Linked DNA regions of Homo sapiens: all the other regions are linked to region 2. Evidence: fine-mapped expression QTL. A gene starts in region 2. Each other region holds a variant in brackets. All regions are shown on one strand. Distances are between the middles of the regions.

Region 1 (7,563 bases), 58 kb after region 2:
TTTAATTTTGGGGAAAAATATTTCCTCCTTTACAATGAACTTTTTGACTTAGGTTCTGGTATATTTTTCGGCTCTACTATATTTGACAAAAGACATTTAGTAAAGCTATTCAGTTAATTTCTTACCTCCTCCCAGAGGTAGCATTTTAAAAGAAGATATCAGGGATGGGCACAGTGGCCCATACCTGTAATCCATAAGCCATTAGGTGGCTGAGGTGGGAGGATTGCTTGAGGCCAGGAGTTCAAGACCAGCATGGGCAACATAGAGAGTCTCCATCGTTAAAAATATAAAAAATAAAAAAATACAATATTAGCCGGGCATGGTGTCATGTGCCCGTAGTCCCAGTTACTCAGGAGGCTGAGGCAGGAGGATCACTTGAGCTCAGGAGCTTGAGGTTGCAGTGAGCTAAGATAGAAGCACTGTGCTCTAGCTGGGTAATAGAGTAGAACCTTGTTTCTAAAAACAAACAAACAAACAAAGAACAAATCTGAACAAAACTAGACTGGACTGAGGGGGCCAGTGCCTTTTCCAGCTTACTTTCTTCTATGTATCCTGCACTTAGACCCAGATTTGCCAATAAATGAAAGAGAGAACATGCAGGATTATGCAAGAAATGTACAACATCGGATATTTTCAGTGACTTTTGTCAAAATTGAGATACCGTCCTTGACTTTAAATTTCCTAAGTTCCTAAGTAGAGACTAAAATCTTTACAGATGTATTAAAACAATACACATATCACAAGCCCTACCATTTCCTGAGTTTGGCCAGATTGTGGGAAAATGTTTTGAGTCTACTTGAGTCATCAGGAAAGTGGCAGATGAGCTTCCTGTGGGCAAGAATAAGTCAATGCACTCAGGGAAAAATACTCTTAAAATCAGGACACATGGTTGATGAGGTTGACAATAGAAGGAATTATTTAAGATTGAGGCCTTGTTGGAAAATCCAGGAGGCATCCTTGCTGGACTCGCAGGCTGAGGGTTCTGAGTTATTGGTTATGACTGAATTTATAAGAGTGGGAATGGGCTGTGGAGGCTGATTCCTGACCGGCCTGTGGGCTGCTGCCTTGGCAAGGGTCATCTTTGTGCTATTCCTTGCCATCATCGTTAGCAGCTGCAGCAGCTTTGGAGTCCACATGTAGACAAAACTTTACAGTCTAGAAAACATGTTAACATTCACAATCTCATTTGATTCTCAGATACAGGAATAGAGAAAAGATACTTTTCTTATAGCATCACATCAATAAGAGACACATAAGTTATTAACAAAATACAGCAAATTGAGTCCAGCAATAGATGGGATTTATCCCAAGAATATAAGATTCTTTAAACATTTGAAATTTAATTACTATCATTTAATAAGTTACAGAATATGGGGAACATATGTAATCATCTAAATATGTAGAGAAAATGCACTTGGCAAAACTCAACACTCTCAGTAAACCAGGACTAGATGGGGATTTCTTCAACCTGTTATGAGGTCAGCTATGAAAAATCTACAGGTAACATATTTAGTGGTAAAATGTTAAACTCTTTTCCCATAAGAGTGGGATAAGGCAAGGGTGTTGACTCTTACCACTTCTATTCAACATTGTACTGGAGGTCTTAGCTAGTGCAATAAGGCAAGAAAAAAAGGGCCCACAGATTGGAAAGGAAGAAGTAAAGCTATCACTATTTGTAGATTGCATGACTATCTACACATTATTGCCATTATGAAGATAAGGAAAGTGAGGCTCAGAGAGATGAAGTGATTTACCTGAGGTCACGCAGGTATAAAGGATGGCGCTAGCACTCAAACTTGGATCCCCTGACTCCAAACCCTGGAATAAAAAGAGGGACTATTTCATTCACTTAAACCTAAAGTAAAGTTTCAGTTATGCTTCTTAAAGAAGATCCAGTGGCACTGGACATTTTCCAGAGCAAATCAACTAAAATGAAAGTGGGAATGCAGAAGGCTTATCAGTGTGGGACAGACTAACTGGCTAGGCTCTTTAGTCTGAGCACAGTGAAGTGTGGACAATATGGGACTAGGGTGACCGTGGATCCATTCACCAGCTCCTGAGATGGCAAAACTGTTGACCTCGGTAAGGTCAGGACTGGTAAAAATACTTTCTCACAGTAACTTCAATATACTTAAGAAACTCATTGTCAAGAGATGATGCAGGATAGAAAAGGTTTAGAAAAAAAGATGTTGAGAGATTCATAACTAGGCTGACCATATCATTCATCATCATAACTGATTTGACAGAAAGAGGGTCCTATTAGTAATTGCCCTAGGTCAACAGGCATAAAGACTGTCCTGGGCAAATTAGGACATTTGGTCCCCCAGCCTATAATAGATATAAAGGAAACTGGCATGTTTGGGTGGTGGGGGGTGGAGAGGCACATCGATAACATTAGTGAACATCTGTTCAGGCACTGGCCAGGCAAGTCATGGTGAATGTCTTAGGGCCTGGAACCCCTACTAGGAGAGTCAGATCTTTGTTGCCCCTTCAGGTGTTCCTGGCCCTTGCTGCTAATTATAATAAATAAGAACAGTAGCGACCATTTGTTGAGCACTTACTACACACCAGGCACTGAGAAGTGCTTTATGTGAAAAATTTCATTCAACAATCCTAGAAGGAAGGCACTATTCCTCTCTCCATTTTACAAGTGAGGAAACAGAATCTCAGAGAGGTTGAGTAACTTTCCCAAGGTCACTCAGCTGGAAAGTATTGGAGCTGAGAGTTGAACCCAGACTCTCAACCATGATGTTAACCAGTCTTTACCTTTTCTCTTTTGGGTTGCAGGCCATTTCAAGGACCCAGGTGTCTGGCATAGGATGAGTGTATGGTTAGACAGCACCAGAGTGGAAATAGGGGAACATCAGTGGCATCCCAGCCTCCATGTCAGCCTTGAGCCCACACTAAGAGACACACAGAAGCATAGAGTGACTGCTGGTGACTGCTCAGAGTAGACATGACCCTGGTTTTTGGCCCAGAGCAGCACCAGCTTCCAGAGCAAATCATGGAGTGAATTATCCAACAGCTTTGTTTTGTTTATTATTGCATTGTTTTGCTGTGTGGACAGACAGGAATCTTGACCCTCCAGATACCTGGGTAATGTTCCTATAACCACCCAGGTCATTTTTGGGTCAGGCAGCCCACATTCAATTCTTTTCATCTTTTTCCATCAGTCAATCCTTAATTATTTTTATTGCTTTTCTCTGAACTCTCATCAATTTGCTGGCATATCACTTTTCGGGTGGTGAGATACCAGAAGTGTTCTTCAGAGAAATTATAATCTCCTGTGCATGATGTAATGCTTTGGCTTAGGCAGTTGAAAATCACAGCAGCAATTTCAGCTGCTATTGGTATCATAACCCGCGATCAATTTGGTCGTCTCCAATTAACTTGACTTTTTTTTTCAGTGAAGGTAAGTACATGGCTCAAAGTCAATATAATTTATATCTGAACTATTCCAAGGATATGTATATATGTATGTGTGTGTGTATTAAAAGCAAAAAAAAAATGAAGCAAGTTCAGGAAGCAAAAAAGAATGTCTGGTCTTTGCTCATTACTGATCACCCCCGATGTGCCAGACCCCAGCTGCTAACTAAGCTCAAGAAGAATCTTATCTTGAAATGTTTAGGACATTTTAAACATTTTCTTCATTAAAAATTACTCTTGTTTTCCTTGACACCCTTTAATGATTACATTTTTACTCTCATGTTCCTATTTGTAGATTGAGAGCTTTCTCTTCTAGTAACAGTGACCCACTGTGACTCAGGTTATAACTATCTGTGGCTTGATTATTTTGAAGTTAATTATGCTTTGGCATGAATAATTACATTAAGCAGGTTATATTAGAATACTCACCATGTAATATTCTTTTCTCATAAGTAAAAATGGAAGACTGAGTTAACTTGGAGTTGAAAGAAATTAATTTGAACAATTTGCCGTCCCTCAGATTTAAGCCACTTTGGTTACTTCTTTTTTCCAAGTTGACTCATTTTTTTCAAGTCTATTTGTCTTTAGAGCAGCTCTCTTTTCTTTTCTTTTCTTTTGTTTTTCTTTCTTTCTTTATTTCTTTTTTAACCTTGTATTATTTGCACAAAGATGGCGGTGTGAGTATTAGTTCCAAAATGATGGCATTGTCTCATGACAATCACAGATGCAGTTTTAAAGTTCTGGTATTTAGCACGTAATAAAAAACACCAGGAACACACAGCTTCTCTGTGAGGGATGGCTCACTGGTGTACAGAGTTGAATCACACAGAGCTGGATCTGGTCACCCAT[C/T]GTTTCTTGTCCAGATAGTGGCTTTGAAATGGCCTCTCAGAAAGTCAGAGATGACCTCAGGCCTGTCCACAGCTCCAGCAGCTGTTTCCTGCCTCCCAGCCATCTCATGATGGGATGCAGATCTAGTTGATGTTTTCAGCCCGCACGGATCACTTCCTTTTGTAATTTAGACCCATGAAGGCCTTCTCAAATGGTTTTGTTCACGGTGTAAGAAGTCATTTTCTTCCAAGAATCTACCTATGTTTCAGAGTTGGCCTCATTTTCTGCAAGGTCAGCTTTACCTGGGGGTGGCAGAGAGATGATTCAGGATGTGGATTTCATTAGTGCATTTTGTTTAAAAATGAATACAGATCACGTTCTTTGATGTGTGTCTTTAGTTGAAAACACCACCACCACCACCGTCACCAAATGCTACCCTAAAAACTTCTCTGTAAAGTCATGACAATATCCTCTTCTTGCAACTCCCCTGACTTTGTGTCTTTCTGTAATATACAGTATAATTTATAAAAGTGTGAGCAACTGTGGAATTGTTCTCCTAATAGATTCTGAAGATTCCAATTTCCATTCTGCCACACAAGACTGAAAATCCACTTGTGCTCACTTATCTGTATCTGTACCTCATCCCCACGCTGCATCAAAAATCAGGTTCAGGTGCAGGTTAAGAGCACGCATTTACCTCCAGAATATGGGACTTATTAAATATCTCTCCACAATTAACATCACCGTATCAATAAGAATTATCATTAGGTCCTGTCAATCAGGTGCTGAATTTTGCTTCAGGGAAACAAAACAATTTAAATTATAGCAAGTGCTCCCCTTCTTTTTTACTTGCTTCTCTTTAAATTGGATAATTATGTGGCTTTTCATTAGATTCCTCTAAGCATAATAGATCACGATATTCACCCTTTGACCTTGGTGATGAATGTCTCTGGTGAAAACATGTGACAAGCAGTGTTCTAATGAGAACAAAATACTGGATAACTGGAAATCTTGTATAATGAAAGGAGGAAGCAGGAGGGAAACATAACCTTTAAGGTTGATGCACAAAATATATTTGTAATGAGGCAATAATATGGGCTGGGGAGAAAAGGGGCTAGTTTTGTTTCTAATAATGTGGATGGAAATGATGATTTTTCTCCTTTGGAATGTGAAAAACAATGGAGAAACAGACATTTCAGGAAAGCTGTGCATCAGAAAATTCTGATCTCAACTGAATTGTAAGCACAGATGGAATGAATCTGCTGGCCTAAGTGGGGATTCAAATGACTCGCTGCGACTTGGAACACCTGCACATGGCAGTGTGAGGGTACCTCTCATTTTATTGCTTTCTTTATGGGAGTTCCAAATGTAAGGACAGCTTAAAAAGGAAACAATTTGGTCTCAGGGGATCTATAATTGTATTGGGGCTGTCAAGAAAGGACAAGGGAGGCAATGGGACACCCCCAGTACTTTCCAACCTCCCTCTCTTGGTTAGTCCCTGAACAACCTGCCTTGTTGGAGCTGGGACACCACCTACATCTTCAAAGTCCTCTTTCTGTGGTGTGAAGAGAGGTTGGGGCATCCTAAAGGTGGCCCTGAAATGTAGCCGGAGGTCAGGGAAAAGCCAATGACCTCTAGCTTCTTCTTCTTGGTTCCTCTCCCAACCCCCTGCACACCTGGATTTCCTGGATGGCTACTTATTGGGCTGACCCAGGCACAGCTTTGCTCCTTGTGGTGATGGATGGGGGATTTCCCATCAAATCAGCCCTTGGTACTGTGATTTGCTCTGGAGTTATGGAGACAGGTAGTTTGCTTCTTTTAGATTTCTTAGATGCTTCTCTGTCCATTTAGGATATACAGCACAAGGGTAGCCCATTGTAAAGCCATTCATCAAGGGTATGGATTTGCTGTATCATCTAAGGACATGGGTTTGTGGCAGGAGCTACTTGTTAAATGCACAGGCTAGGCTGTGCTTGTTTTAGAGTGGAAGAAAGAGAGCTGGAAACCACCACTTATTCGGCACCCATTTTGTGCCAAGCACTCGCCCAGGCTCTTGATACATGCTCTCTGATTGAATTCTTCCATCAAACCTTAGCCTACTTTATGATTTGGAAAATGGCCCAACCTGACTCAGAATGACCTGACAGCAAAGCTGGGGTTTAATTGCAGGTTGGCCTGACTCCTAAGAACATGTTCTGTAGGTTAAAGGTAGCACAGAATGTAACACTTTTACCGTCTCCCAAGAACCATGCCTTTACTGTAACGTTATCCCCAGCTTACCTTTCCAGGTCTTGATGGAATCGATTTGGATTATTTGGACTTAATATTATTACCATCAATCTTGCTAGTTGTACAGTTTATTTTGTTTAACAGAAGACATGCAAGAGAAGAAACAGCTGCCTCTATAAGTTGATTTCTTCCGGTGAATTCCAGTTTGGAGGAAGAATTTGCAGGGAATGATGTATGTGCTTACAAAGGATTAAGAAACTAACCAGGCTCAAAACCATGGTTCCCTTTGTTTATCTGCAGATCTGTCCTGTTTAAGGTAAAATTCACCCTGGGCCCTCGCCCCTGACCTCCACCAGGTGACTTTTCATGGAGACATTCTCACTGCCAGCAATCCTTCAACTCTTTCCACAGAAGTCTGCCAGGAAGAGAAATGTCCAAAGTCCATTTTGAGCTCTCAGCCTGGGATTTAGCTGCAATTTTTCATGGACACTGGGCAATTACTGGCATACGAAGCCAAGGAGAAGCAAGAGAGGGAAGGCCCTGCTTCTCTAGTGAGATCATCATCTTTGCATCAGTCACTGTTAGAGACATCTCTGGTTTCTGTTCCCAGCCTAACTGCACAGAAAAGAGATATTCTAGCTTCTCCCTAGTTACGCATATGTGGAGAAAACTGAAAAAGATGGGTAATCATGGTTGTTGTAAGTACTTGGGGGCTCCAGAAGGTGTCCCTAAGAACTCCATAAAGAGGGGCTGTTGTTTCTCTGAGATTTAAACCTTTAGCACAAAATGGATCACAGTGCAGCTGCTGGAAGTCATCCGAAGGAGCTGAAAATTTTCCAAGCCCACACCCTCAATTGCAACTTGTTTGAGCAATTTTATTAGCAAATCTAAAGAAATAATGCTTTGATCAGAAAGGAGAGGGTTTACTCAGCATGGAAGCAGGACAAAAAAAGGGACTCAAAGGCAAATGTTAGCAGGGACTGCCCAAACCTTGTCCAAAAGAGAAGGAGCTGAAGTCAATCGACGGGTAATTTCTAGGCCTCTTGAAAGATGCATCTCCAATACGGTGTCAGAAATCAT
Region 2 (7,563 bases):
ATTGATGACTGGGAAACGGACTAAAATTCAGCTTTTGTTTTGGCATTGCCTGTCCTGTCAATTCCCTGCTCTCCTGCACCGCTCCCCTTACCCTCAAAATAATTCAAGACTAAATCCTGATTAGTTATCAATTCTGATAATCTTGCCTCTCTTGCCAGTGGTAGTTTAGAGATAGTCACGTGCCCTGGTTCTGGCCAATGAGAAAAGATCTGAGGGATCTTTGGTATAATTTCTCCACTCTTAAAAAATTTGAGAACAGTCAACTTTTTTGGCTGGCCTTTGCCATGTCTTAAAGTGATGCCTGGAACTATGGCAGCCATTTTGAGACCTTGAGGAGAACTAGCTAAGGACAAGGTCAGCAAGCTGAGGATGGCAGAATTTCAGAAAGACGAGAAAAACTTGACAACATTAAACATTTTTGACCCACTAAATTAACCAAACTTAGCATCTGCTACCTTGGTACTTCCTACATGAGATACTACATTTTCTTCATTTTTAAAGCTACTACAGACAGGTTTTCTATTACTGAAATCAAAGTTATCCTAAGAAAAACAAGCAGCGTATGAAGCTTTATTTTATCACATCTGACAGAACAGCTCAGCCTTAAGTTGGGAGTAAGATTTATACAATTCTGCTGATAATATTTATTACTCATTTTAATTGTTTGCATGGTAATATTGAAGCCCCCCAACTGTTAGGAAATGTGCATTATTTTAACAATACTGGGTATCAGTAAATAAAATATGCTAAATATTGCTGAAAATAAACACTAAGTAACTCAATTTGTGTCATTATATGTGAGGAATGGGAAAAGCTTCTTGGAAGAGGTGATATTTAATCTGGACTTGGAAAGATCGGTGATATTTGAACAGTTGGACATGAAGTTCAAGGGCATTCTAGAGAATGTCATGGGAGAGGAAATGCAATAGCATGATTTGGGGATGTACTGTAGTAGACAAATAAGGCTGGAGCTGGGTTAGGTGCAGATTGTGGAGGGTCTTAAATGTCTTGCTAAGGGAGTGTGGAGTGCCTTTCCTCAGCAGTGGGGAACAGAGATATTTGAGTTAGTTACTGTGTATTGATTCCAGATAAACGAATAAAGCATATAGTATGTATATATTTTTTATAGTTTTTTTGGTATATTTTCATGAAAAGTGTGTATGATTTTAGTGAAACCATAAAAATCCATTTTCATTCCAATTTAGATTCTGTTTTAAAGTAGTTGCCAAGGAAACTAGTAAGTGACTGGTTATGCCCGATTTTCCCTAAGTTCAAAATTAGATGCAAATTCTTCAAAGAGACTACTTGAAGGCCAGTAAACATTTCAAAGGCAGTCAAGCTCAGACGCCTGGGTGTGTGGGTGCAGGAGGGTTAGAAGGGGGGTTCTGATGTTCCTGGAGGGAAGAGATGCCTTGCCTGTGTAGGCAAAGAGCTACTTTGAGGGAAAAAAGCTGAATGAGTTAGAGGTGAGTGCCCAGGAAGAGAAGCTGGAAGTGAGAGGTTCCACTGAAGTGCCTAGAAACAGACACTCTTTAATGGAGACAAGACCAAATTTCTGGAGTTTTCCTTTGTTTACATCTTTTTATCTTGTCTCGTTTCAAAAAGGAGTTAACTTTAAATATGTCCCTGAATAAACACGAGGCAGCATGACTCCATCGCAGGTAGAGATAGGACTAAAACATGATTCTCCTAAACTTTAACCCTGGAGTTAGCTCACTTAATCCTGTAAATCTCTGCAAAGACTAACTTTGTTCCCTGGCTCCTCCGTGGTTGCCAGGTGGTGGATATACATTCTACAACAGAAGAAACTGGAATCGCTAGAGGTGTCTTTTTTTAGGGCAAGGAAGCATTTCCCAGAAAACCCCAACAGATGTCCCCTGGCTTGGCCTTGGCCAGGACTGGTCACATGCTCTTTTCTAAGCCAGTGCCTGGGCAAGGGAAGGGGTTGGTCATAACGGATTTAGACTACTTAGGATTTACTTCTGGGCCAAGGAGAGGGAGGGGGTGAGGGAGGGGGTGAGGGAGGGGGTGAGGGAGGGGGTGAGGGTGGGGGCGGGGGGCTGGCCCGGCCTAAGATGGCTGGGGGTGATGCGTTCGGGGGACAAAGGAGTGCTGGACAGTTGTGTGAGCTGTAAGAAGGACCCGGAAAATACTGCAGAGTGATTGAGAGTGTAGAGGGGCCTGGGTTCTCACCTGTGCTCCCTCCCACCTTAGCTGGGTTATGCTGGGAACCTTTCAAGGCTTTGCTAAGCCTGGGTTTCCAGGAGTGCAATAAGATCGCTGTGATAAACATGTAGGTAAAGCAGTTGGCATAGTACCTTGCGTAGAATAGTCCTCAGCATATGTTTACTACTGTCGTTGTTGCTATTAATAAAAGTGACCTAGCTCCTCTCCTCGAGAAGTTCACAAGGGGCCCAAATGTGACAGGGGGAGCTATCAGAAGGCGGGAGGTGACTTCTTGCCAGGGAGCAAGCCAGGGCAAGAAGAGAGGCGCCGTGAAGCCTGCGTTCCCTCCCGCACGCGGCTTGCCTCGGTGGCCACACGGGGAGCTCAGCAAGGCCCAGGGTTCGGGAGGCGGGTCCTGCACAGCGACGCAGCCTTGTCCCGGTGGCCGCAGGCCTGGGGAGCAGGGCGCAGCACACCCGCCGCCCGCTTGCAGGCGAGACGAGAGCGGGGCGCCGGGATGCTGGCGTCCAATTTAACCACCAGGGCGCACGGGACGGAGGCCGGGGGTCCCGCTTTTCCGTCAGAGTTCGCGGTCACGAGTGGAACCCACTGAGCACTCTAGTTTCCTGGTATTTTCATGGCAGTAATTGGATGACAGAGTCAAGAGGCAGGGCCTGCGCCGACACTGACTAGCAACGCGCGGCCTCTGAGCCGCGCCCGGCCGCCCACCCCTTCCTCCTCCAGCACCGGGCCGGCTCCCCCTCCCGGCCCGGCTCGGCGGCTGGGGGGTGGGCGGAGCCGCGGCCGGGCAGTTCATTATGTTGGACAGGGCGCGTCTGCGCCTCCGGCCGCCGCGGCTCCCGGGGCCTCCGCCTGCAGCCGGCGGCGGAACGAGGGCAGGCGGCTGAGACAGGCGAGCTATTTGCATTCCCCGGCAGTCATTTTTATATGCGGAGGTAATGAAGTTGTCAGCGGCGCCCCGAGTGTGGCAGAGCCTGATATTCAAATCGCCCTGCCCGCTCCGCCTGCTCCCGCCCGCTGGTCCCGGGAGCCCCAGGCTGCGCGCGCCCGCACCGCATCGCCGCTTTGCCCCGCGACCGCGCGCGCCTCCTCGTCCTCCCCCGCGCCTTTGTTTCCGTCTCCTTCTCCTTTCCCTCCTCTTTTGTGTCGGGCCAGACTCAGCCCCAGAAACCAGCCACCCTGCCGCGTCCGACTGCCAGGGATCCCTCACGCCGCGAGGTGAGCTGGTCGCAGGTGTGGGGAAGTTCGCGGGTGCAGCTAGGCCGCCGCCCTCGCGCTCGACGCCACGCCCGCCTCCTCTTTCCTTCCCCAGGGGCCCCTTGCCCTCCCTTCACCTCCGTCTCCAAGAAAGATGACCTAGTACTGCCATTACCGTTTGGGCCTAGAGGAGTTTTCGTTCCTCTTTCCGAATGCATATTTGTGGTCATTTTTTATGATTGCAGAAACCCAACACACAGCTATTCTGTCAGGCTGCCGAGAAAAGGCTGTTCGGCAGTTGCAGCCCTGGTGAGGCAATGAGGAGGAAAGGTGGACGCACCTGCCTGGAGTGGTTGAAGGAAGGCAGTGAACATCCACGCTCCTGGGGTTGGTTTTCCTGAACCTCTGTAGCTGTGCTGCTCACTGGGGCAGCCACTGACCACAAGAGGCTGCCGAGGGCTTGCAGTGTGGCCAGGCCAGACCAGGATGTTCTCCAAGTGGGAAATACACACCCCATTGTAAAGAAGACTGTATGGAAAAAAGAATGTGAACTGGCTCATTCATCATTTAAAAACATTGATTGCATATTGAAATGATAATATTTTGGGTATATGGGGTGAAATAAAGTATCATGAATTAAATCTTTTTTTAAAAATGTGGCCACAAAGAACATTTAAATTTACACATGTGGTTCACATTATATCTCTGTGGGATCGCACTTAAGACCCAACCCCACCCATCCTCTAACTCTGCCCTCTCAGCTTGCTCTACAGGTACTTTGGAACAGGGCAGGGATGGAGGGAAGGTCCTTGTATCTTAGGGATCAAATGCCCAGGAAAATAATTAGGAGGTGTTTGGGATTATGCTGAAAACCCTGACAACACTGAATAGCAGATGTCTCTTTCTTTTCCCTTTGTTCACTGTAAAGAAAAACTTACACTCCCCCACAGCCATGCCACAATTCCATGGACCAACCATTCATGTGTGAAGGTGGGCCTCTAGGAGTGTTTTGTGCCTTTTAGGAGTTATTTGTGGCACACTAAACTTGCTGACATGCCATTTAGAAAAGTGAATACTGTGTACGCACTGTAACAACTATTCCATAAGTATTTTTGGTGTACACTGTTCCTCAGCACTCACAGGCTTCGGAGTAGGGGCTCCCGGAGTATGCATTGACACGATGCGCTGCAAATGATCCGGGCGTGGGGAAGTCCCCGAGTGTGCATTGATTCCACACACGGCCACGGCTCCTACAGGGCTTTTATGGTGCAGCTCGCCAATGATCCGTGTGTTAAAGACTCCCCAAATACACATTGACACGATAGACTGGAGTTGTTTGGGTCTATCGTGGCAATGATCCGGGGATAATGGCAGTGTCTTATACAATTTCACTGAGATTGGAGTGCTCATGGTCCTAATGGCAGAACCGGAACTGCCCCAGTTAAGTCCCACCATGGCGCCCAGTAAAGGGTGTGTGGGTCTTTGACCTTCTGCTTCATGACACTGTGGCATTGCTAATTTTACTGATATTTTAACTAACATAATTGAGTTAGCATTTTTTTCCCCCTGAAAATTCATTTTTGTAATTCAACACCTGAATTAGGGAGTCCATCTAGTGATGGTTTCATTTGGTTAATCATAAGCTAAAGACCTAGGAAAGGTCATTCTTAAACCTAAAGTGTTTTGGGAAAAATAATCGTGGGAGATGCATATGAGCTTGAGACAGAGTTAATATGGAATAAATAACCTCAGTCCTGAGAAAACCTAGTTGGCTAGGCTGAAATAGACAAGATGAGAAGGTGGGAAGAAGATGTTTTTAAAAATAATGAAAGTAACATATTCAATAAAAATAATTCAAACACTGTAGAAGTGTATGAAATAAAAAACAGAATCCTCCCACTCCTTCCTTCCTTCTTTCTATACCATTCACTGTTACAAGCACTATTAATATTTTTGTATATTCTTCCAGTAACTTAAAAACACATGCAAATATATACAGTCATGCATCTCTTAATGATGGGAATATGTTCTGAGAAATGCATCGTTAGGCGATTTCATCATTGCACGAATATCAGAGAATGTACTTATACAAACCTAGATGGTGTAGCCTACTACCCACCTAGGCTATATGGTATAGCCTATTGCTCCTAGGCTACAAACCTGTACAGCATGGTACTGTAACAGAATACTGAAGGCAATTGGCCAGGCACTGTGGCTCACGCCTGTAAATCCCTGCACTTTGGGAGGCCAAGGCTGGCCTTCAAGACCAGCCTGGCTAACATGGTGAAACCCTGTTTTTACTAAAAACCCCAAAATTAGCTGGGCTTGATGGCATACACGTGTAGTTCCAGCTACTCAGGAGGCTGAAGCAGGAGAATCACTTGAATCTGGGAGGTAAAGTTTGCAGTGAGCAGAGATCATGCCACTGCACTCCAGCCTGGGCAACACAGCAAGACTCCATCTCAAAAAAAAAAAAACAACACTGTAGGCAACTGTAACACAATGGTGAGTACTTATGTATCTAAATGTAGAAAAGGTACAGCAAAAATACAGTATAAATGGTAAAAAAAGAAAAAATACAACTGTATAGGGCACTTACCATGAATGGAGTTTGCAGGTCTAGAAGTTGCTCGGGTGAGTGGAGTGAGTGGCGAGTAAATGTGAGGGTCTAGGACATTGTGTATACTAGTGTAGGCTTTATAAACACCGTACACTTAGGCTACACTAAATTTATATTTAAAAAGGTAATTGCTCTACAACATTGTGATGGCTATATTGCCACTAGGCTATAGGAATTTTTCAGCTCCATATTAATCTTATGGGTCCACTGTTGTATATTTGGTCCATTGTTGACCGAAATGTCATTATGTGGTGCATGACTGTATATCTACTCTTTGTTTACACAAATGGGTTAATGCTGAATGTTAATCTTCAACATCTTATATTTTCAATTAATAATACAGTCATGTGCCCCATAATGATGTTTTGATCAGCAATGGACTGCATATACGATAGTGGCCCTGTAAGATTACCGTGGAGCTGAAAAATTCCTATCGCCTGGTGATGTCTTAGCCCTTGTAACATCTTAATGCAACACATTAGTTGTGTGCTTGTGGTGGTGTCAGTGTAAACAAACCTACTGCGTTGCCAGTTATTTAAAAGTATACCACATACCACAGTATGCCACATTATCAAGTACATAATCCTAGATAATAACAATAAACAACTGTTACTAGTTTATGCATTTACTATACTATTTATTATTATTTTAGACTACTTTCTACACATGCATACACACATATTTATACACACATATATGTATAAAAGTTAACTATAAAACAGCCACAGGCAGGTCCTTCAGAAGGATTCTAGAAGAAGGAATTTTAATAGAGGAGATGGGGGTGGGCACGGTGGCTCACACCTGTAATCCCAGCACTTTGAGATGTCAAGGTGGGTGGATGACCTGAGGTCAGGAGTTCGAGACCAGCCTGGCCAACATGGTGAAACTCTATCTCTACTAAAAATACAAAAATTAGCTGGGTGTGGTGGCAGGCACCTGTAATCCCAGCTACTTGGGAGGCTGAGGCAGAAGAATCGCTTGAACCCAGGAGGCAGAGGTTGCGGTGAGTGGAGATCATGCCATTGCACTCCAGCCTGGGTGATAAGAGCAAAAAAAAAAAAAAAAAAAAAATGAGATGGCAGTTCTATGCACTGATGACCTTACAATGGGACAAGATGTGGGGATGGAAGACAGTGATATTAATGATCCTGATCCTGTGTAGGCCTAGGCTAATGTATCTGTTTGTGTCTTAGTTTTCAACAAAATATTTAAAAATTAAAAACAATAAAAAATAAAAATTTTAAAAATAGAGAACAGCTGATATAAATAAGGATAAAAAGGAATTAAATAATTTTGTACAGCTATACAATCTGTGTTTTAAGGTACGTATTATTACAAAAGAATCAAAAGGTTAAAAAAATTAAAAATTTTATAAAGTAAAAAGTTATAGTAAGCTAAGTTTATTATTGAAGAAAGAAAATAATTAATAAATTTAGTGTGGCCTAAGTATACAGAGTTTATTTATTATTTTCACTTTTTATTTTTTTGAGATGGGGTCTTTCTATGTTACCCAGGCTGGATTAGAACTCCTGGGCTCAAGTGATCCTCCTGCCTCAGCC
Region 3 (7,563 bases), 670 kb before region 2:
AAAGTGCGACGGGACTGAAATCTGATTTTGCTTCCTTCCAGGCTCCTCCCTTTTGGAGGTGTCTGTCTTCCCCAGGTGTGTATCTTTCAAGTCTTTACTGATGATGGCTTAAGAATTGATTCATCCCAGGTGTATTTTAATGAGAGACTGCAAAACTTTAAAGACTTTAAAGATTGAAAGGAATTATTTTCTTTCAATGAACATGTGTCATTCTATTATTAAAGTAATATATGATTACTACAAAAAAAATGCAGAAAAGTAAAAAGCAAAAGAATTGCCCATCATTCTGCTACTGAAACACAAGCACCATTAAAATTTTGTTGTATTTTTGGCACGCATATTCTTTGTAGCCTTTACTTGTGTGTGTGTGTGTGTGTGTGTGTGTGTGTAAAAGGGGATGATTATATTGTTGATTTTAGTTTTGACTTAGGAAAAATTGCATATACAACTTTGTATCCTTCTTGTCATTTAGTATGGTAACCCACCAAGCATTTGCTGCATTACCATACCCTTTCCATAAATAATAATTTTTAATGGCTGCAAAATAAGGGATGCATTTTTGAAAGTAAAGTTCTTTTTTAAATTTTTTTAAACAAAAATTTCTAACTCTAATAGATCCTGGAGAAGATAAATGTATAAAACCAAAATTAAATGTAAGTTCTCTGAGAGCAAAGACTTCTGTCTCTTTTTATTCTCTGCAGTAACCTTGGTGCTTAGACTACTGCCTGGCCCATGATAGGTGTCCTCTAATGAATAAGAATAAAATCAGAGGAACATGAGGCCTCTAGGACTCCAGCTTCCAATGTAGCACTGTGCCCTGGTTTGCTATGAACTCATTCTACAGAATGATTGACAAGTAGCCTGCTTTCTCTATGTTTTTATTTTCTCCACGGTCTTTTGCTAAGACACAAGTACAAGTAAACACATGATTCATCAAAATATCAATTGATTTTTAAAAGCACCTGTTTCCCATTTAAACCTTCACAACCATGTTTTGAAAACTGTGGGGAAATCTGAAACTGTCTCAAAATCTTTTTAGAGTTCTTTAGAAATTTTTTTTAATGCCAGTTGTAAAGTCATGTCCATGTCAGTGATTCTCTGATCCCCAAATATCTAAACCTGTTGGAAACTGTGCAAACAGATAATAATAGGACCTCATTTAAAGCAAAAGTAAATTATAAAAAATCCATTACTTTGTTTAGCCAACAGCTTTGATACCCAAGAAAACACATCGAGACTTTGCCCTGTCCTGGAAGCATTTGGGTAAAGTGCTGGCGAATGTGATATCTAATTAGATTCTAGGGTCTCATCACCAAGAACTAGGGGAAAGATCAGGAGTTCAACCCAAGAAACCAGTTCATGGAAAATATCAAATAACAGTTGGGCAATGCTGAGAGGCTATTTACTGAAATGCTCATACCTAGTGAAAAGACCTCCTGGGCAAAAACTTTTTTTTCTAATCTAGGAACAACTATTGAATTTGCTTTTTGCATTATACTGAATAATTCTTCTTTTTTTTTTTTTTTTTTTTTTTTTGGAGACAGAGTCTTGCTCTGTCGCCAGGCTGGAGTGCAGTGGCATGATCTCAGCTCACTGCAACCTCCACCTCCTGAGTTCAAGCAATTCTCCTGCCTCAGCCTCCCCAGTAGCTGGGACTACAGCTACGTGCCACCACACCCAGCTAAGTTTTGTATTTTTAGTAGAGACGGGGTTTGACCATGTTGGCCAGGATGGTCTCGATCTCTTGACCTCATGATCCACCCACCTCAGCCTCCCGAAGTGCTGGGATTATAGGCATGAGCCACCGCGCCCGGCCTATACTGAATAATTCTTAGTATATTACATTAACGTATTGCCATAATTTGGTTTTGCCCTTCTGAAACCTAAAGATATAATATATGCCTCTGTAAATGCCCACAGAACTACTGTGTGAGCAAAATTTGACTTTGAAAACAATTATAATGTGGGCAAGAAAAATGTTAAAATCTTTAAACATTATCAGGCCAATATATAGCTTGTTATATGAGTTCCAGCACAGGCAGCCCAAAGAAATAAGGAGAGATGTGCATTGCCACTTTCTCCCATCTCTCCCAGCCTACAAAATGGGCTTCAGATGACAGAGGAAGTGTCTGAGGCAACGGCAAATGTGGATAACAGGTTGGAAGATGGAACTACCAAGGGAAAGAAGGCTAAAGGAAGTGGGGAGATTCAATGAGATAAAGAGGAGATAGAGAACTTTTTGGATTTTAAAAATTAATCTTCAATTACGTGAAAGGATGTTTGTGCAAAATGGTGACCCACTTTTTTCCATCTCTACTGGGGCAGATCAAAAGAAAATGGACTTAAACTGAGGCCGAGTGGTTTAGGTAAGACAGAAGAAGGAATTTCCTGAATGTGGAGGTCGTTAAAAACTAGAATGAGTTACTAAGGAAGTCTGTGGACACTCTTCCTCTGGGGAACATTTAAAAATAAGATAAATTTTCATCTGTCAGGGCGAGTTTAGAAGTAATCCTACTAGAAGGCCTCTCAAAGCATTTTCCAGCCCTATAACCTGAGGGCCAAATTCCCTCTGATTTTATTTCTAAAGTTAACTAGATGCGAGATGAATGCCTGAAGCAGAATTCCAGATTTTAGATACAGTAACTCGAGGCTGTCACCTTTTGTTCTATAATAAGATGCCACTTTGCATAAAAACTAAAGTCCTAATCCTTCCTGGAAACCACAGCAAGGAAAAAATTCACAACTCAAAACTTGGCAAATTAACTCTTGCTCAGACACCTTCACTCTCATCCTTAAAAATACAAAATACCATCTCCTCCTCTACACTGTTTTTTGTTCCCTTATGCCTATGGAGCACGTCTTTCCAGTTCTTAATTTTATTTTTCCCAGACAGCCATTCCGAATATTCCATTTTTACAGCTAGTCAGTTTCTTTAAACAGTCTTTTGAAACCTAACCAAATACTTTCCCAGCAATTATTTGGCGATGTTTCAATCTTAGATATACCAAGCTAAAAAACAAGTTTGCATTTTGAACAGCTGTACTCAGACACATTCCTTTCTCTTCATCTTCTTCTGAGTTTTAATCAAGCCAATCGGGGGCTTTCATTACACCTCCCAGGATGGAATAACCTGACATGGTGAATATTGATATAACACCCTCCCTTATAATTGATCAGCTTTGTTTCAGTTCCATGGTTTTCTTTTCTTTTAAAAGCTTCGGGTCTCCTTTGTTTCAGGTTAAATCAGGAACATTAAAAGCAACTGATATCTAAAGCCTCCTCCAGGTCACTGCTGCCTCCTCCTCCTCATTCTTAGCCTAAGGTTTTTTTGTTGTTTTTTTCTTTTTTCTTTAGCTTCTCCATCCTCCTACTCACCCCTCACCCCAAGGCATTTGTCAAAGGTTTCCTCTGACTTCTCCAACCCTTTTCTCCAGTGTGAACTCTGGATTCAAGTGTGAGGAAAGGAAATCTGGCTTAGGTAAGGAAAGGGGAGACCATCCAGGGTAAAGGGAAAAGAAAGGGGTTTCAGTCGCAGCGATCGCTGGCCAGACACTTCCTAACAGTTACCTCTCAAGGACAGCAAGAAAAGTCCTTGAAAATCTCATCTGGGCACATGGATGGCAGGATGGGGCACAAAGAGCTATGTGGGCTCCTAGAGAGACAAGGTGAACTTATTCCTCAGTTAGGAATCCAAATAAATCATAATGCTTAAACTATTCGTGAAATCATCAAGTATCTACAGATTTTTTTCCAGTTCTAAATGAAAGTAGCCAAATGATGGTCATTAAAATGAAAGAAAATCATCCTTATTTTTACTTCTGTACAAGCTTCTCGAAGAACTTCAAGTCTTAGTGGAGATGGGGTGAGGAGCTAGTGACAGGGCTCTGATGAGTGGAGAACACCAGGTTCTTCATCTCGAGTAGAATTAGAAAAAATGAAACGGACACACATGGAGTAGTTTTAAGGAGCAGAGAGTTTAATAGACAAGAAAGAAGGGGGAAGAAAGAAAGAAGAAGCTTCCCTGTACAGAGACAGAGGGAGGGAGGGCTCCAAAGCTGAGAGGGAACCCTGCTATCAACTAGCTATATTCGATGGCTGGAGGAGGCGGTGTCTGATTTGCATGGGGCTCAGGGGATTGGTTTGACAAGGCATGTCATTCACGTAGACCGTGAAAAAACTGGCT[C/G]TCTCACCCTAGTCTTTTAACATGCAAATGTAGGGCGCCATGATGTTCCACACACCTGGGGATATGTGGGGGCAACCATGCTGCTAGGCACATGTGGGGGCAAGGGTAAGAGGGCAACGGTGGGAATCGCCATGTTGGGTGGACCCAGTTTCTAACGCCTTGCATTTGCATATTAAAGGTTGCCAGCCGGCCATGTTGGGTGGATCCAGTTTCTAACGGTTTGCATTTGCATATCAAAGGTTGCCAGCTGGGGTCTAAGAGTCAGGATTCTCTTTCATGCTAGACAAGAGCCGCGAAAAATCTTCCAAGGACCCCTTTTTTCCTCTCTATCTGCCTAAAATAATTTCTTAGTAACTCCTACCACACTAGATCGTCTTAGTCTTTACACTGAGAAAAGTAAAAGAGGTGTGTTCTCTTTTTGTACAAATGGGGAAAGCCAGGAATAGAGTGATGACATATTTTACCCAGAGTGACATAAGTAATCACAAGGTTCTCTGCATCTATATTACTATATGCTTTGCCAGAATGCCCTGTTAGGATGAAATTTATTTATATAGTTAAATAGTTAATAACTACATAAAGGAAGGAGAGAGGAAAAATAAAAACTAAATATATATATGTGTGCACAAAAAGATATTAAATTGAGCTTATGAATAATATATTTCAATAATACATTACTAATTATTTAACATGAGGAGAGGAGCTGATTAGTAGTAGTCAGTCTTCTTGGCCATAGTCAGTTTCATCAACCTCTTCAGTTCTGAAACCCCAAGGCTCTCCCAAGGTTTACCTGGGGAGATAACCACAGCCCCTGTCCTCTTCAGGCAACTCGGAGTTCAACTTTCCTTTCTCAGAAAGAGAGATAGCAACATCTCAAGAGATAGAGCTAGAGAAAAGTCACAGAAGCATCTATGAATTGGTTCCCCATCAAGGACACCCAGACACACAACCCACTCAGAGACAAACCGTTCTGGAATACTTCATGTTGGAGTGGTTAGCCCTGCTCTGTGAACTGGTAATCCAGTCCTTTGTGGAGCCATCTCTGGGCTAATTGTCTCTTTGTTTCTTGAAGGTTGAGAGATTATCTTCAGCAAAATTCCTCCGTTTAACCCCTGGACTTCCTTACCCCAATTCATCCAACCACCACTCTCATTTGCAGATGAGAATCTTCATTTGCACACATGGCCTTGGCCTTTGCCTCAACCCTTTCCCTAAGACAGCTAGCTGGTTCTATCTTGCTCTCTCTCCTTCGTTTTTGGTGCAGATCAACAGCAGAGCCAACCTTGGACAGGACAGGACGAATCCACACTTCCAACTCACAGAAGCATGGAACCCAGTTAGGGAGAGTCTCCCAAAGCCTTAAGGTACCACAGGGCACCATGTCCTCTGCCAAAACTTTTGGAAACAGGGCTGGTTCTACTGCAGCAGAACAGATCACCCTTTGAACAAAAAGCTCCAAAACTTACAAGAAAGAGAAGATGAAAGCTGCAGCTCTCTTCTTTGAATTATATATTATCTATGCCTAGAATGCCCAGAGGGGTCATGAATTTAGAGAACTCAACAACAACAAAAAGTCAATATCTGACACCTTGTGTTTCTAAAACTCATTACAGCTCTGGGAATGAAAGTATAGGAAGAAAAAAAAAAACAGTGAATAAATTATTTAGAAGAGGAAATGTTTGGATTATTTTCTTGCGTTTTCTTGAGCTTTTCCCAATAGTTTCAGAACTGGTGGAAAGAGAAGGAGTTCTGTCTCCTAAATTATCTCTTGAATTCAAATTTTCTCTGGTCTGGGATTGGAAGGATCCTTCATACTTTTATAAACTGGACTGAAAAATACAGAAGCCCCCAATCTTAACCCTTTCTTCTCTTTCTAAAATATCCTAAGGAAAAGCAATAAGAGATTTAAATCCCATATCATCTGAGAAAGGGACTGGGTTTTTTTCCCAAATCAACCTTTCCAATTAATGAAGCCCCTATTCCTTATACTGAATTGGGGAAATGTCTTGTGAAAAAGTTGCTGACCCTCCTCTGATACCTGGAACCCTACTACAGAGTCTCAGATTTGACTCAGAGAAGGTTCCAGAGGTGTGTCTGCGTTGTGCTGTATTGCACTGAGCTGGTGCCTGACATTTTAGATGCTCAGTGAACATGTGGCTCTAACTCAGTCACTGCAAACTCCTTAAGATGTCTTGCTCATCTCAATGGCCACAGTAGGTAAACATTCAATAAAGCCTGATTGACTAAACAAATAAATAAATGAGCAATCATGTCTAAATCACTAAGGGAGAGGTTTGCCCCCTCCTTCCCCACTCCCATCCTCCAGATCGATCTTTTCTGAGAATCACTGCTTGTCCGTTTTCGTCCCCTAAGACATTTTAGTAATCAAAGGAATGTACCCTATTCCAAGAGTCCTACACATTCTGTTTCTTATTTCATCTGAGAAAGAATTTACTGAAGAGTCCTCTCCACCACATGTGGATTGAATTTCCATTCTCTTCTCCCCATTTCCACCTTTCTTTTTATTTCTGTCTCCATCAGAGCAGAGCATTCAATATGCTGCAGAAATAATTTTCTGCTGAATGAGGTTCGGCCATAAGTCAAGGGCAGATTTATTAAGGCCCCTGCACAGCCTGTTCCTCGGCTTACTGTCGACATGACAGTTTAAATCTTTGATCACCCTTACACGTAACCCCTTCACTGCTGAACAGCCCAGATCTACAAGATGAGCAGCTCCTCCTGGTACTTGAGATGAGTTGAAAATGGTTCTAAATCCAAGCAGACAGGGCATCTTCACCAGGACCCAGGGGTGTCCAGTGTGTTCAGGGATTTTCAAGGTACAGTGAGGCATGGCTTAATGACAGGGACATCTTCTGGGAAATGCATTGCTAGACGATTTCATCATCGTGTGAACATCATAGCGTGTACTTACACAGACCTAGATGGTAGAGCCTACCACACACCCAACCTATATGCTATAGCCTATTGCTCCCATGCTACAAACGTGTAGAGCATGTTACTGTACTGAATACTGTAGGCGATTGTAACACAGTAGTAAGGATTTGTGTATCTAAACATATCCAAACCCAGAAAAGGTAATGCATTTTGTGCTAGGACCTTATGGCAGCTATGATGTCATTAGACAATAGGAATTTTCCAGCTCCATTATAGTTTTGTCGGCACACTGTCATAAGTGTGGTCTGTGGTTGACCGGAACACAGCTATGCAGCACGTGACTGTATCCCTCCTCCCATGCTCACTTCTCTTTTCTACCTGCTTCTGCTTCCAGGCAGGAACTTCATCATCTCCACTGCTGTGCTGTGGGAAAACTCCACTGCAGCTTCTGTTCCCAGAATAGCTGTTTTATCTAGTGAGTTCAC

Evidence for each region. PIP is the estimated chance that this variant, and not a neighbour inherited with it, causes the effect.
Region 1: its variant is fine-mapped to the expression of LINC02981 in spinal cord (GTEx, PIP above 0.99). The same link has a PIP of 0.9 or more in hippocampus and prefrontal cortex.
Region 3: its variant is fine-mapped to the expression of LINC02981 in esophagus mucosa (GTEx, PIP 0.97).

What each region holds. Positions count from the first base shown.
Region 1 is chr7:26,453,583-26,461,145 of GRCh38, forward strand. All of the region lies in intron 1 of LINC02981 (long intergenic non-protein coding RNA 2981), which reads left to right. Among named protein-coding and RNA genes, the nearest start is that of SNX10-AS1, 58 kb to the left of the region's middle. The variant C/T (reference allele first, on the strand shown) is at 4,276.
Region 2 is chr7:26,395,617-26,403,179 of GRCh38, forward strand. It overlaps LINC02981 (long intergenic non-protein coding RNA 2981), which reads left to right and starts at 2,953. Exons shown (of 5, transcript NR_148502.1): 1 at 2,953-3,405. It overlaps SNX10-AS1 (SNX10 antisense RNA 1), which reads right to left and starts at 3,802. Exons shown (of 2, transcript NR_136272.1): 1 at 3,725-3,802. RefSeq lists enhancers at 2,089-3,045, 2,120-2,359 and silencers at 2,830-3,289, 3,380-3,489.
Region 3 is chr7:25,728,706-25,736,268 of GRCh38, forward strand. The region is part of intron 1 of LINC03007 (long intergenic non-protein coding RNA 3007); the gene reads right to left. Among named protein-coding and RNA genes, the nearest start is that of LINC03007, 58 kb to the right of the region's middle. RefSeq lists enhancers at 4,017-4,683, 4,951-5,461. The variant C/G (reference allele first, on the strand shown) is at 4,184.